2 separate regions of the Homo sapiens genome follow, and region 2 is linked to region 1. The links come from fine-mapping of genetic effects on gene expression. Tissue or cell type: whole blood. Region 1 holds a variant in brackets; the other region holds the start of a gene. All regions are shown on one strand. Distances are from middle to middle.

The links. PIP is the estimated chance that this variant, and not a neighbour inherited with it, causes the effect.
Region 2: it holds the start of EPHA1-AS1, and the variant in region 1 is fine-mapped to the expression of EPHA1-AS1 in whole blood (INTERVAL, PIP above 0.99).

What each region holds. Positions count from the first base shown.
Region 1 is chr7:143,501,781-143,510,044 of GRCh38, reverse strand. EPHA1-AS1 (EPHA1 antisense RNA 1) reads right to left here. Exons shown (of 5, transcript NR_033897.1): 3 at 5,215-5,271. Among named protein-coding and RNA genes, the nearest start is that of TAS2R41, 28 kb to the right of the region's middle. RefSeq lists a silencer at 5,131-5,591. The variant G/A (reference allele first, on the strand shown) is at 4,874.
Region 2 is chr7:143,403,856-143,411,855 of GRCh38, reverse strand. It overlaps EPHA1-AS1 (EPHA1 antisense RNA 1), which reads right to left and starts at 4,043. Exons shown (of 5, transcript NR_033897.1): 1 at 3,970-4,043. It overlaps EPHA1 (EPH receptor A1), which reads left to right and starts at 3,000. Exons shown (of 18, transcript NM_005232.5): 1 at 3,000-3,132; 2 at 4,178-4,245. The coding sequence starts at 3,051. RefSeq lists enhancers at 2,316-2,928, 6,513-7,027.

The sequences.
Region 1 (8,264 bases):
GTTCACTGTTGATTATGTTGACAAGGGGTAGCACACTCAGCAGTCTATGTGATGTGCGTCAGGAGAATCTGGGTAGAGAAATGCCGATGTTAGAGACTGGCATGGCTGATAGAATTCACCAGCATGTTAGAGATTGGCATGGCTGGTAGAAGTCACCAGCATGTTAAAAACTGGCATAGCTGGTAGAAGTCACCAGCATATCTGAGATTTGCATGGCCGAGATCTCCCAGAATGAGCAAGTGCAGTTAGAAGAGCAGCTTCAAGATAAGACAAGGAGCATTAACATTAAAAAAATGAACTGACTTTCTAAGCATAACACAAAACATGAAATTTATTATGTAAAAAATAACCCAAAGCTTTCTCCATGGGATGCCGCTTTAAGCAAACCAAAAAGAGAAAAGAGAAACTTGGAAATTCACATGTAATGAATGAAAGAGGCTCATTTCATTAATACATATAGAGCTCTTAACGATTAATAAGAAAAAGATAACTCCAAAAAATGGGCAAAGTTATGAATAGACTGTTTGTAGAAAAGGAAATGTAAATAGCCCTTACACAGCGGAAAGGTTTCAATCTCATTCATAAGAGAAAGCAAAATAAAATTATAAAGTTGTCAAATTAACAACACTGAAAGATGACTAACACAGAGCAGGAAGGTGAAACAGGCTCTCTTGTATGTTATTAATGAGAGTATAAATGTATACAATTTCTATACAGGGAAAGTGGATGATATTAATTAAAATAAATGGCATGTATTATTTGTTTCAATGTACTTCCAGGGTTTGACCCTACAAATTTATTTGCTTTGTGGGAAAATATGAATGTTCAAAAATATTCATGTCAGCGTTACTTGGATTATCAAAAATCTAGTAATTTCTTAAATATCAATCAATATGTGACCAATTAAATGCATTTTGGTTTATCCCTGTGATGGAATTCTATGCAGCTGCTGAGAAGAATGAAACAGTTTTATCTATGGCAGGTGTGGAACCAGGTCTCATAAAAGTTGTTAAATGAAAAAAGCAAAGCATGTGATTATGTGTATTAAGGAGTCATCCCTCATTCTACTCTTGTCTTCTGGCACATCTCACATTTTCCCTTGTTATTTCCACTCCTGGAATGCTCTTCCCATAGATCTTCCCAATCTGGCTTTTTGTCATTCAGATGCTGTCTCAACTCAAATATTGACTCCTCAAAGAGGCCTTCGTTGAACACCCCATGTAATGTTGCCTCTCCACCCCCTCTCACATTATCATGCTTTAATGTCTAATCATCTGTCATTACTGGAAATCATCTTACTTGCATTTCTACTGCTAATTGCCCATTCCTTCCAACATAAACTCTGTGAAAGGCCATCTGCTTCACTCACCATGGTATTCCCAGTTCCTATCAGTGTCTGGCATGGAATAGAGTCTTAAAAAATTGTTGAATGAATGAGTAAATAAATCAAGGTTTATGGTATGCTAGCATTTATGAGCAAAAATATTTAATTGTAGCTGGGTGCAGTGGCTCATGCCTGTAATCCCAGCACTTTGGGAGGCCACGGCAGGCCAATCACCTGAGGTCGGGAGTTCAAGACCAGCCTCACCAACATGGAGAAACCCCATCTCTACTAAAAATACAAAATTAGTCAGGTGTGGTGACACATGCCTGTAATCCTAGCTACTTGGGAGGCTGAGGCACGATAATCGCTTGAACCCAGGAGGTGGAGGTTGCGGTGAGCAGAGATTGCACCGTTGCACTCCAGCCTGGGCAACAAGAGCGAAACTCCATCTCAAACAAATATATATATATATATATACACACATACATACACACACATATATATACACATATATATACACACACATATATACACATATATATATATACACACACTTATATAATTGTATGTGCATGTATGTGTCTGTATATTTCCTATGTGTTCTCTACGTGTGCATGTATACACGCAGATAAAGACACACATATTTCTGCCAAAGTAAAAGTTTGGAGACTGGGGAATAGAGGTGGGATAAACCTACGTTTTTCATCGAATACCTTCCTTACATACATGTATGTGTCAGTTATTCAATAAATGCTTTTCAAATAAAAATACAGGATAGGCAGAGGAAGGGGAATACCCAACGGAGTTTTTTTTAAAAGAGCAATCAGAGAAGTAGAAGAAAATCAAACATATTGTGGTGTCATGGAAACCAAGAAAGGGAATTTCAAGGATGGAGTAATCAACAGTGCCAAAATGATACTGCGATTTCTAGAATAGTATGACTGGAGCCAAAGATGGCTTTTAAGATGCCTACTCCAACCCAGAAAGTACTGAATTCACCTGTACAAACCTCAGCGGTGCATGTGCAAAGGTCTACTGACCAAACAACAAAACACACATACAGAAATGCTGTCTAGCCAGAGATCATATAATGACTGCCACACTCCATCCAGGGTTAAAAGAACACAGAGAAGCCATTCAAATCTGTGTAATCAACTGCTGGAATGGGAAATAACATTGTCTTTCATTTTAAATGCTGAAATATTTAACACTGTTTCAAGATTTGTACCCAGATTTGTTTTAATCAGGTAGGGTAAAGTGACAGACACAGAAACAGCTGCCTTTGAAAGAACAGTTTATTACTCACAGTTCCTAAGAGGGGGAGGCAAGCTGTGTCATGCAGGGCCACGTGGAGAGGCATACTGTCTCTTTCTGTCAGGAGACAGAAAAAGAAAGGGAAGACCATGCCCGAGAGACTTGATTGTGGTTTCTATGGGAAGAAATGAGTGAGTGGAGTAGAAAACTTAAGGAAGTCTAAGATAGGATAGTTTGAATAATTTCAGCAGGCTCTGGATGACATGCGTGGTATCTAGTAGTCCAAGACCTCACCCTGGGGTGATTAGGGTGGGGAAAATGTTGACTTGGCATGTGAGAGTTAGATAAAGGAGGTGACTGAGTATATGAGCTCTGGATTGGTTGGTTTGCATCTTAATGACATTCTCACAGGGGACACATTTGCCCCTTCTTCTAAATTCCCACTTGTCCAGTTATCCCAAAGCCTGGGAAAGTATTCATTTACCAGGAACTGCAAACTCTTGGTGATCTAGCCACTTCCCTTCAGCTGAAAGTTGCCACTTCATAGGGACAGAATCTATGCAGTTAAAACAATGGGAACTTTCCCTTCTTAAAGATGTTTGCATACCTAGGAACTAGTTAGCACTGACAGGAGCAGTCTCTCCCAGCCAACAAGGCCTCCAAGATGTTGAAGCATCATAAAACATAGAAAATAAAAAACATAATCAATACACACAGTCCCAAAATGATATGTAAGACAGTGTGCATGGAATAAATTTTTTCTGTAACCCTTCAACTGGACCATCATTAATTCGAGCTGTCTTTCTATAACAAATCCCATCATGGGTCTGAAAACAATGCCTCACCAAATCCTCTCTTCACCACAGCCTCTTACTTCCCAGCTCTCATTTATTTGCTCTGAGACCATCCCTTGTCACCTTCATCAACAGCTTCAATCCTTTGGCCCAGATGTTCTCTCCACCTGTGTGCCACCTAAATGAAGCTCCTTCACTTTCTTTCAAAATCAAGATCTCTCAGACTAATGTTTAATTATTTGAGCCAACACTCTCAACTCCATTGTCTGTGTTCTACACACCCAATTTACAAACCTCAATCCGATTTTCTGACATCTCTAATACAAATCTGTGAGTGCTCAATACTTCTGAAGACAAATCTCATTACTCTATAACAGGGCCACTATAATTCTGTAGGATCCAAACTCAGACGGGCCTCATCCTCTGCTGCCCTGCTATACTGCTATATCAGTGGGCTCCTTCCTTGGCTGCATACTGGAATCACCCAAAGACCTTTAAAACTACTGAAGTCTGAGCCTGACACCAGAGATTCTGATTTGCTTAGTGTATTATTCCATTTTCATACTGCTATAAAGAGCTGCCCAAGACTGGGTAATTTGCAAAAAAAAAAAAAAAAAAAAAGAGGTTTATTTGACTCACAGTCCAGCGTGGGTGGAGAGGCCTCAGGAAATGTGCAATCATGGTGGAAGGTGAAGGGGAAGCAGCAGGCATCTTCTTCATAAGGTGGCAGGAAGAAGTGCCAAGAGAAGAGGAAAGAGCCCCTTATAAAACCATCAGATCTTGGGAGAACACACTCACTATCACGAGAACAGCATGGGGGAAACCACCCCCATGGTTCAATTATCTCCATCTGGTCCCTCCCTTGGAGAGATTATGCGGATTTGGGGGATTACAATTCAAGATGAGATTTGGGTGGGGACACAAAGCCTAATTATATCACTTGGTCTTGGTGTAAGTCAGGCATTGGGGTTTTCAACAACTCCCTTTAGGTGATTCTAAGGTGTAGTCAAGGTTGACAGTCACCGCCCTCTAATCATTACTCCAGTCCTTCACAGTGGAAGAGGCTACCCTGCTTCTGCTTAAATTTAACCCTCCTTGAGTTCCAGATCTCATCTTCACCTACCTCCTCAGAGAGCTCATACATTATTTACCACTACTATCTCCCATGCTTAGAACCCAGGTATATGAACATCTTTAAGGTAGGAAAGTTCCAATTATTCTAATTGCACAGGTTCTTTTTCTTGACATAGCAACTTTCAACTGAGGGGAAGTGGCTAGATCACCGAGTTTGCAGTTCCCAGTCAATGAATACTTCCTACAGAAGGTGGGTAACTGGACAAGTGGACAGTTAAAAGGGGGCTGTAGGGAGGGAACTAGAACACCACTATCCAGAAGGAAAAAAGAAAAGGTGAAGTAAATGTGGAAAAATACTTATTAAAATTTAATGAAATTTCTCTGCATATAAGACCATTTCCCACATCTAAGCTGAGGCTCACTTAGA[G/A]AAGTAATATTTGTGTAGCCCTTTGGGGGGCAACATTTCTCCAAGATATTTGAGTTGTAGGTAACAGCTAAGCCTTTATATTAAGCCTATTAATGACTTAAGTCTTTGCCTGGAGCTTCTGAAGTACCAGTCCCACATAGTGGAGATTAAGATTTTCTATGATCCTCCTGACAATGGACAAATGTACCTCCTTCATCTTACAATGGGAGGGGAGGCCTCCTAACCACACAATCTCCCTTAATCCAGCAGTTGGATCCCTCAGCTGCTCCTGGTGGCCATCTTCCCTGCAGTGTCTGCCTCCTCCCCTGGCTGTGCCTGATTGATGGGTCTTACTGACTCACCATGGAGGTCCATGTTATCTCCAGCCTTCAGCTGCTCCCGAAAGCAGTTGCTGCCTTCTGGGAAACAATCATGAAAGTGAATTTAATCCATCTTGTCTCATTATCATTAAAGCACACATCACAAAGGGAAAAGTAAAGTGCCTCACCTGAACGTTGCTGGAGCACAGCACCTGTAGAGGCAGGGCTGGGCCTCGGAGAGAAAAGTGGCAGTGCCGTAGCACAGGGGCATTGAGCCAGGCTACCTGGATCTGGATTCTGACCCCTGAAGTTCCTGACTGTGACCTTGGACAAGTTCCTCTAACCTCTCTGGGCCTCTGAGTCTTCAGTGGATAAGCTGGAGTTGACATTAGCACCTGCCTCACAGGGTTGTGATAATCACAGCTAATATAGGAAATATGCTTAGAACAGTGCCTGGCACTGTTAGCTACTATTAGTAGGGCATTATTAATAGCAGATGTTTTCCGGTAGGCAGAATCAGTGCAGAAGTCCCAGAGCTGTTCTAAGCAAAGAAAATCACTAGCTTTATACTGCAGGCCCCATACCTTGAAAGGACACACCTTGGAAGAAAAATGGGTATATATTTGGTAGGGCCTGGGCAAGGGGCTTGCTGGTTGGAACAGCAGGAAAAGAAGAAACCAGGTTTCCAGTCTACCTTTTCCACCTCTGCTTGTGTGGGTTCTGGGAGGGTTTCTCTCCAAGACCTCGTATCTTTGCTACTGTTGTTGTCCCTGGACAAATTGGGGATCCCGAGGTGGCTGTGATTTTGTTTTGCTGAACTGCCCTCTGGCTCTCTTTCCTGTACATTGGGAAATTCTGAGATGGGAAGACTAGTAAAGTACTTGGAAAGGCTAAGAACTGGCTTAGAAGTAAAGTTGAAGTTAACAGGGTCAATGAGAATTTTGGTGGCTTTTTTAAAACTTACATCCCTTCAGAGTTATTTAAACAGAAAAAATCATTTATTAGGGAAAGACCCACAGAATCTGTAGGAGGACAATAGAGTTGGGCAAAGATGAAGCCAGGAACCAAGGCACAGCATATAGAGGGACTGCTCTAGTGAAGACGCCACAGTTCCGCTGCTAGTGACCAACAATATATGATGTTGGGGAGTCAGATACCAGACCCTCAGCCCTGAGAAGCTCAGTGCTCCATCACATCCTTCTCTCCATAAGATGCCTGCCTCAACACATGACCCTGTCCAGGAGCAGAATCATGCATAGGCATCTAAGTGAGGAAGCCTGAGTTACTGGGAAGGAGTCAGCTGTAATGGGGAAAGGGATTTCAGGACATCAAAGATGTCTGGGTGATTTTTAGGAAGGCTTGCAATGTGGTGTGGGAGGAGCCCTCCCTCTCTCACCCCTCAACCTCCACATCAAAATCAATTACCCGTCATTGCACTGGGACTTATGGCCCATGACGGATGCAATTATATCCTGGCCACAAGGCTAGGGAAGGAAGTCTAAGGAGGTTCAGTCATAATGTGATTATGTTCACAAAATATAGGCCTATTTTCAGCTTTACCTAATGCCACTATTAAACTTGAAAGTCATTGGACTTTGGCAAAATATTTTGCTGCATGAGTAGTTGAAATTAAAAGCTTCAGCAAAAGAAATTTACTCCCAAATTATTTAAACCATTTTACCCAGAATATTCCTAGAAAACTATGTTATCAAAGAGTACAACATGATATCGTTCATTGTATTTTCCTATAAGGACAATATGATAGAAGGTTGGTTTTCTGACTAAAACTTACCATTAAATTAATCCTCTATATGGCCAAAAATACACCAAAATAAAAGTATTATCAATCTTTGAAATAAAGTAGTGAAATAAGTCTAATTCTTTAATAAAATCTGTATAAGCAGTACTATTCTTAATGCAAGTGTCCCAATCATAAAAAGCACATATAGATCCTAAAAAATTTAACTTGGTATTATAAACTTAACTATTTTTATAATAGGTTAGATTTACTAATCTTTTATAAAGTCTAGATTGTTTTTCGTAGAGAGAACTTTAGAATAAATGTTTAGACAGCCTAGATACCTTAAAATTGTTTGTTAAAGATGTTTGAAATAGATATTTTCTTTTCTTTTTTTTTTTAGATGGAGTCTCACTCTGTCAACCAGGCTCGGGTACAGTGGTGTGATCTCAGCTCACTGCAAACTCTGCCTCTTGGGTTCAAGTGATCCTCCTGCCTCAGGCTCCCAATCAGCTAGGACTACAGGTGTGTGCCACCACACCTGGCTAATGTTTGTACTTTTAGTAGAGAGGGGATTTCACCACGTTGGCCAGGCTGGTCTCAAACTCCTGACCTCAGGTGATACACCCGCCTCAGCCTCCCAAAGTGCTGGGATTACAGGTGTGAGCCACCACACCCACACTTCTTCTTCTTTAAACATTTCTTTGATAAGCAGAAACCTTCAAAATCATTCTACTGATCTTAATGCTACCTCAAACTAGCAGAGCAGAATTTTAAATCTATGTTTCATGGTGGCTATATTAATAATGATTATAGTGCTTCTCCCACCACAACTCAAAAAACTAAAAAACTCTAAAATCTAACCAGTGTCATATATAAAGCTTAGAGTCAGACCTCTGTCTCCATTTAGGAAATACTTGACATTGAGCCAGGCTTGTGTGGCCTAACCCAGCCCCAATTCTCTCCTTCCTCAAATGAAATAATATCTATGAAATTTCTTGAAATTAAGCACTGTACAAACATAAATTATTTTTATTTGTGGAAAAAGAAGTGGAACATTCTCCTAGCAAGATGAGAGCTGGAGAGTCATCTTTATTAAGGGAGCTGGGAGAATTTCACTGGATTCCTTTTCATTTGACTTAGAGGTAGATGGAGAGAGGAAGGAGGTCTGTAAGGCAGTTTCTCAGTCAGCACCCCTCACTTTCCTTCTCCATCTTCAAGACAGCTGCTGTATATTCACTATCAACAGGAACAAAGACAAGATGAAAAAGGGCTCCTGTGCCTCTGAACAGCTTCTGGACCTCAATTTACTCTTGGATAATCATTTCTGGCCCCTACACTCACTACCCTCTTT
Region 2 (8,000 bases), 98 kb after region 1:
GTGGGATTGATTCACAGGAGCACCAGTGAATGTTTTTAGATGCTGAAACTGCTCTGCATCTTGACTGAGGTGGTGGTGCATATACATTTGTGAGAGCCCATTGAACCGTACACTTGGAATGGCTGCAACTTATTTTATGCAAGTTGTCCCTCAGTAAAGTTGATTTTGGAATGGAAAAATAATGATGTCTTAGTAATTGAGGTTGTTCTGCTCTGGGAGCAAGCTGGGAGGCCTGCAGGAGAACTCCAGCAATTCCTAGCCTCCACCATTCTCCTAGCCAATTAACATTTGCTCAGTACCTTACAGTTCATAAAGCACTTTCTCCTCTTTTGATCATTACACTGACTCTGTGGGGTGGACGTGATTAATCTCATTTTATAGCTAAGGAAACTGAGGCACATTATGGCTAAGGGAACTGGCCAAAGTCTCCTGACTCAAAATCCTGCTAGCTTTTTATTTTCTGAGACCATCCCTGAATATAGCCTCAGAAATCATCTAGGTCTAGGGAAACTGAAACCATGGTCCAGAGAACATAAATAATTTGACAAAAGTTGTACTGCTAGTTAAGAACAGAGACTAAACTTGAAGATGTGCCTCCTCTCATGACAAACTAACCAGAAAATGTCAAATCAAGATAATCCTGAAAGGAGACAGAAAGTGGACATTCATTCCCCATATGCAGAGACTTTCAGACCAGGATAAAGAGCCTATCCTAAAACAAAAAGCAAGACTTTTTTTTCCAGGGTTCTAGACTCCATGTCTCACTGCATGGAGCAGTCTCCCCCACTCCACACACCCACCCCCCACCCCCCACCCTCTGGAGTCCCAAGGGTCTTGTAACTTTAACAAACTGCAGCAGCAAGCACATGCATTACCTCACCACAGTCTGGCTTATGTCCTAGCAGCAATTGTCCAACGCTTGCTCCATTTCCCCCCTTCTGTTGGCTTTGTACCCTTCGCCCATTCCTCCCTGCTGAAATCACAAAGCTCTGACCCCCGCCAGCCAGCGTGAGCCTCCTCCTCCTTCCTGGAGTCTTTAACATTAGAAAAGAGGCCTCTGGTGCAGAGCAATGTGTGTCAGATGGCCCCTCTGTATACACATTTTAAAAGCATGTAAGTGTGGGAGTAGAGGGAGAGAGGGAGGGAAAAATACACGATGGTGTGTACACAGCGAGGAAGCAATCCTGGGAGGACTTACAAGAAACAGTTGATGGTGGTTAACTTGGGGAACAGAAATTAGAGTGTTGGAGGGCAGAGGGTTCTACTTCCCATTTTGTTTCTGTATGTTCAACATGAATTTCCTAACCAATGTACATGAATTACATTTATTTATGCAAATAAGGATAGTCTGAGCCAAGAACTGATGGGCCGTGTTTGTCATATACGTATCTGCATAAGAAAGCAAAAAAAAAAAACAAAAAACCTGAGAAGCATTACATTTTGAAAATGAGAAAAAGCACCTATAATCCACCACCTCCCTTCATTCACAGTACCGAAATGTGCAACAATGTAAATGATAGAAAAATTATGAACAATTTACCCAGATGGGATGGAGCGAAAGAAGGAGGGGCCAGGAGTGGACCCCCAGCCTCTTTAGTAAATGCATCACTCCCCTTTGAGCTACTGTGATCCCTGTGTGTACCTTGCCTGGGGTCCACTCCTGCCCGCCATTTCAATCATTTGTGCAATTATTTATGTCTCAACCCCCAGCATCCCCAAATTAATAGCTTATATAGGGCAAGACATTGTCCTTCTGTTCTTAGGTGCTTCTAGAGCTTCCTGCATGCATAGCAGAAACTGAACAAACATTTACTAAATAGAATATAAGAAAGTCTCGGCAGAGCGCAGTAACTCAGGCCTGTAATTCCAGGACTTTGGGAGGCAGAGGCAGGGAGATCACTTGAGATCAGGAGGGATCACCTAAGGTCAGGAGTTCGACACCAGGCTGGCCAACATGGTGAAACCCCGTCTCTACTAAAAATAGAAAAATTAGCTGGGTGTGGTGGTGCACGCTTGACGCTTGTGATCCCAGTTACTCGGGAGGCTGAGGCAGGAGGATCGTTTGAACCAGGGAGGCGGAGGTTGCAGTGAGCCAAGATTGCACCACTGCACTGCAGCCTGGGCCACAGAGCGAGACTCCATCTCAAAAAAGAAAAAGAATATAAGGAAGTCCGCAAGAAAGTGAGAGGGCACGTGGTTTGACACCACTAAGATGGGTTAAAATATCCTTCCCTGCCACCTGTGGCTGGAACCTTAACCAGATATTCATGTCTGCTGTGTAAGTGCATGTCAAGGTTCAAACTCCTTTTCTTGTTTACCCAGCCCTGGCCCACACCTGCCTTTCTGCCCTGATTCCCAAGACAAATCCTGCGCCCCAGCAGTCAAACTGGTCCATTCACCACTCCCTGGGCGCACCTTGAGGCTCCCTGCCTTCAGGCCCTTGCTGGTGCCTTTCCCAATCTCTGCCACTGAAAACCCAGGTCACACCAGCTCTCCCTGAAGACTCAACTAATGTGCCCCGATGACTGGGCTTGCTTCCTCTTCTAATCTCCAGATGCTTCACTGCAGGTTGTACCCCACCTTGCATTGTGGTCATCTAAGCCTCCCCTGCTAGAGGGTGAAGATATGACTCTTACCCCTTGCCTTCCCCGGCCCTATTACCCAGCTCTGGGGCCTGCACAAAGACAGAAAGAGGAATATAGGAGTGTAATTCAAGTCAGAGGTAGAATTAGGTTAAAAGCTGGATCAAGATTGGGTTGAGTTTAGGATTAGAATTGGGAAAAGGTTCGTCAATTCTTAATCCCACCTACTAGGCGGCGCCCGCAGTCTCATTCGGGTCAAGACGCCTCCGGTTCTTGAATTTGATTACCAGTCTAGCAAGTTTCTTTCCTGCCCTACTGTCCCTTTAAGGAGGTGAACCAGGTGAGGCCGGGACTCCGCCCCCGGCGCTGGCCCCGCCCCCCGCCCCCGCCCGGCCCGCCCGGCTCTCCTAGTCCCTTGCAACCTGGCGCTGCCATCCGGGCCACTGTCCCAGGTCCCGGCCCGGAGCTATGGAGCGGCGCTGGCCCCTGGGGCTAGGGCTGGTGCTGCTGCTCTGCGCCCCGCTGCCCCCGGGGGCGCGCGCCAAGGAAGGTACCGACCCCCGCCCCCGCGCCCCCAACCCCCGCGCCCCGCCCCTTCCCGGGGCCCGGCCAGCACCCCCCTGCAGAAGCCGGCATTCCTAGGGGCCATGTTCCCCGAGACCCTCGCCAGCTCTCTCGCTGTGCCCGACCGCCAGGCTATCGACTGGCCAGGCCCATCTTTGGTCTTTAACCCCAAGCGGCTGCTCTCCCGGGTCAGTCACCCCCACTCCCGCAGGCCAGCAATCTGCTCCTGGGAGTGGGGAGGGAATTCCGGACCCTTGCCAGGAAGTAGCACCTGCACCCGCACCCCTGCCTGCATTCCCAGACAGTCCCAGCTTCAGGTGCCCACCCCAGAGATCTGAGCCCTTGGAAGTTGAAGGTGGGAAGTCGCCTCCTGCCAACCTAGGCCAGGGACAGAGGGAGCTGCCTCCGGGAGAAGGGTTAGGACTGACGCCACAGGGGTTCCCAGTTGTCCGAGTCGAATATTCCATGTGAAAGTTGGAACACCCTCTCCGGCCTTACTCCCCCCCACTTCCCAGGCAGGTAGCTGTGCCTCTTATCCCCACTTCACGGCTCTGATCACTGGCCAGGTCAGGCCAAAGCAGGCTTCGGACAGTGGAGGTGAGCCTCCCTACCCAGGAAACCCCTTCTGAGGTCCCCGGTCCACCCTGCCCACTCCTGGCTAGCAGAGGTGAGCTCCTCCTGCCCTCCACGCGTTCCAATCCTGCAGCTGATGGGTGTCCCAGGACGCAGCAGCCTGGGTAACTGAGCGTCTCGTGGGGCTGCTCTTCTTGCATTGACTTTGGTCAAAGACCCAGCGCCCCAACCCTTGTCCCACTCTACCTGCCTTCCTTCACACACACAAAGAAGAGTGAAATCCCTGGAGCTCTTCACTCCTCAGTCCTGAGCCCTTTTTCTCCCCTAAGCCTCAGGAAGTCACAGCTTTTAGGAACAGGATGTTGCAGCCTGGGGCTGAGGCCCCAGAATGATTAATGTGGGCTGCAGGGGCACCTCCTCCCCCAGAGGTGACAGACTTCTTTTCTCCCCACTTTCAGTTACTCTGATGGACACAAGCAAGGCACAGGGAGAGCTGGGCTGGCTGCTGGATCCCCCAAAAGATGGGGTAAGTGTCGGAAGAGGGAAGGATCTTGGAAAACTCCTGAAGGCCAGTGGGAAATGGGGTGGAGAGGTGGGTGGAGGAACAGAGAAAAGAGCAGGAAAAACTGGAAGTGTCTCCTCAGGGAGGGGGAGAGGAGGCTGAGTCAGAGCCTCCTCAATGGGACAAGGGGTGGGGGGGTCAGACTTCACCTCAAGATGAACGCTTGAATGGCCTGGCTCCTCCAGTGAATACTTGGGAATATTGTGAATACAAGCTGATACTTGTGAGGGGGAGAGGAGCTCACATACCCGGGGAGAGAATGCACCATGCTGGGGATGGTTGAAGGCTGAGACCAGTGCTTTGCTTGGGGAGGGATAGAAAAGGCAGAAAAGCATCCTCAATCTGAGATCCATTCATCCCAATGAAGTTGCATTGATAGGTTTCAGGGGGTGGGGAAACCCCATGAAAGTGTACTCTAAATTCTGTATATGTAAGCGGGCATTTTTTTTTCTGGAGAGACCAGCCAAAGCTTTCATCAAATTCTTCAAAGGGTCTTTGACTCCTCCGAAGTTAAAAGCTGCTCCCCTAAAGGTTTCTGAGCCCTTAGCTCATCCTCCACACCTCCTCAGGCTGACTGCGTGCACACCATGCATTCCAGCTGTTTGAAAGTGTCAGAGCTTGTTCCAGTTCCCTTCCTTCCTTGGATGTTCCTAAGACTCAGTGAACAGGTTGTGAGGTGGGTCTGAGAGAGCATATTCAGACTCAAATGCAGAGAGCAGCTCTTATGATGTACAAAAAACCAAACTCAGTTTTTTCCTACTGCACTCTCAACACAAATCACTTCGGTGACCTGTGGTCACCAAAATGCGTGTAGGGATTCCTCCCGCCTGCAGTCAGTTCTCTCTGGCAGATTCTTCAGTGGACAGTAGCTGAGTGTCCTCTAATCTTATTCAGTTCTTACACTATCTACCTGGAGATAGCCTCAGGTTGAGGGCTCAGCCCCACAAGACTGCCCTCCTCTAGACAACAATCACAAGTAACATGTTGTCACCTATACTTCTGTTCCATCGGCTGTAATCAGGTTTACCTGACCCTCCTCCTCGGGTTCAATTAGTTTGCTAGGATGGCTCACAGAACTCAGGGAAACATTGACTTGGATTTACTGGCTTACTATAACGGTTATTACAAATGGTACCATGAACACCAGATGGAATAGCTGCATGGGGCAAGGTATATGTGAAGGAGGCGAGCCACCCTGCAGGGACCTAATCATGTATGGCCATCCAGAAGCCCTCCCAACCCCATCCTTCTGGGCTTTTATGGAGACTTCATTACATAGGCGTGATTAATTAGATCATTGCCCACTGGTTATCAGCTCAACCTTCAACCTCTCTACCTTCCCTGGAAGTTGGGGGTGGGGCCGAAAGTCCCAACTCCAATCACAAGGTTGCCTTCTGCCACCCAGGCCTCCCCCACCCCAGTCTAGTTCCCATCCCCGGCAGTCAGCTCACTAGCATATAAAAAGACATTTGTCACTTCAGGGATTTTGAGGGCTTTAGGGGTTGTTTGCCAGGAAATGTGGACAAAGACCAAATATATATTTTACAATTCACAGCACCCTTTCTGCCAGCAGCACAGCTGGTCACAGAACCACTTAGGGGGCTGCCTAAGTTACTGGAGCATCTACAACTCTGGCTCTGGAACCCCTTCTCTCAGGGTTTCCTTCCTTACCCCAGTACTTGAGACTTCAATCCAGCCCCTGTTTCTGGGGTCAGGGTTACTTGCTTTCTTTCCCTCTGGGTCCTACAGTCCTGGCTCCGTTCTCTGTTCTCCTACAGAGTAGCCTGTAATTAGAGCTAATAGACTAAACCATAGTGGATCCTCCAGGAGGGGCCGTTTGGAAGATCCAGCCCTAATAGTTGACTTATCTCATAAATCAGCTAATCACCCACAGTGATAGCTGCAGGTCAGACTTCTGGCTCCCATGGGCCTTCCTTGGGCCCTTGACACCTCCACCCAAATAACTCTTCCCTAATTTGACTGGAATGGCAGCAAGGCCACTTTCTCAGCACAGGCAAAACAGTCCTGCATGCTAGGAGGGCAAGGAGACAGCCAGCAGTCATACACTCCCACTATCTACCTTGTCCCCCTCCTTCTCCCCATCTTTTCAAAACACACACACACACACACACACACACGCACACATGCACACGCAGGCATTCAGGTCCAGAATGCACCCATGTGGCAGCCAGCAGCGCCTGAGTGATAAGCAAAAGGATCCTTACTGCTGATCCTGGACAGCTGGCTCTCGCCCATCTGTCACTGCTGGAACTGGGAGAGGCAAGGCACAGCTGGGAACATCTGCTTCTCCTGGCTCCAGCTTCAGCCACGGCAATCTGGCTAATGAGCTGCACGTTAACCACTCACCACCCTGCCCACCTGACCCCCGCCAGTGCCTTCCACTTGGGCTTCCCCAGCACAGCCTTCCTTAGGAGAAGCCTCCTGGTGCCTTTTTCATTCCAGCTTCCTTGCCTTTTAGACACCCCTTGCCCAATCTTTGAACTCCCTAACATAATGCAGAAATATGTGCCTCATAGCAGCTTCTATTTCTGCCCCACCTCACCCCAAATTTTTGATTAATGATTTTTTTTTTTGCCTTTTCCCAGAGCTGAGGGTAGGGATGAGGGCCCCTGCATTATAATGGAGTAGAAACCTCAGGAAAGTGAACTTTCTAAGGGCCTCAGTCTATTCTGCATTAAATTATGGGGTTGCAACAAAAATATCAATAGAATACTTTATAGAATTTGAGAGCTTTTGAAAATTCATCTGACAGAGGAAATAAGAATGGTTGAGAAGAGTTTTTGAAGAATGAAATGGGAGACTTGTCTGACAAGCAGATATCAGAACCATCAGCTATAACTAAAACATATGTCTTGCACAAGATCACTCAGGTTAATGGGACAGGATAGAAAGTCCAAAAACGAGCCTACACATATGAGGTTGTAGTATGTGATAGCATCGGAATTGCAAATCAATATGGAAAGTAATACCTAGTTAATAAACTGACGGTTAGATATTCATAATTTTTAAATAAATATATAAAGATATATCTCTCCATAGCCACGCGCGGTGGCTCACACCTGTAATCCCAGTACTTTGGGAGGCCGAGGCGGGCGGATCCTGAGGTCAGGAGATCGAGACCATCCTGGCTAACACAGTGAAACCCCATCTCTGCTAAAAATACAAAAAAATTAGCCAGGCATGGTGGCGAGCGCCTGTAGTCCCAGCTACTTGGGAGGCTGAAGCAGGAGAATGGCGTGAACCCTGGAGGCAGAGCTTGCAGTGAGCCAAGATCGCACCACTGCACTCTAGCCTGGGCAATAGAGCAAGACTCTGTCTCATAAAAAAAAAAAAAAGATATATCTCTCCATTATACACAAAATTCATTCTAAGAAAACTAAAATCTCAACCTAAAAGCCAACCTACACAAATTTTAGGAGAAAATATAGATCATTATAATCTTGAGATAGGAAAACTTCCCAAGTCAAATATACAACCCAGAAATCATGAAGGGAAATACTGTAGATGTTATTATGTAAGAAATTTACAATGTAAGTCCACATCAAAACATCATTAGCAAAGCTAAGTGGTATGGCAGACAGGGAGAAAATATTTGAAACATACATTTGAAGGAAATGATTCGTGTCTATAATAAGTTTAAAAAAGAAACTCATCCAACTGAGTAATCAAAAGATAATAGAATGTCATGCAAAGGTTAT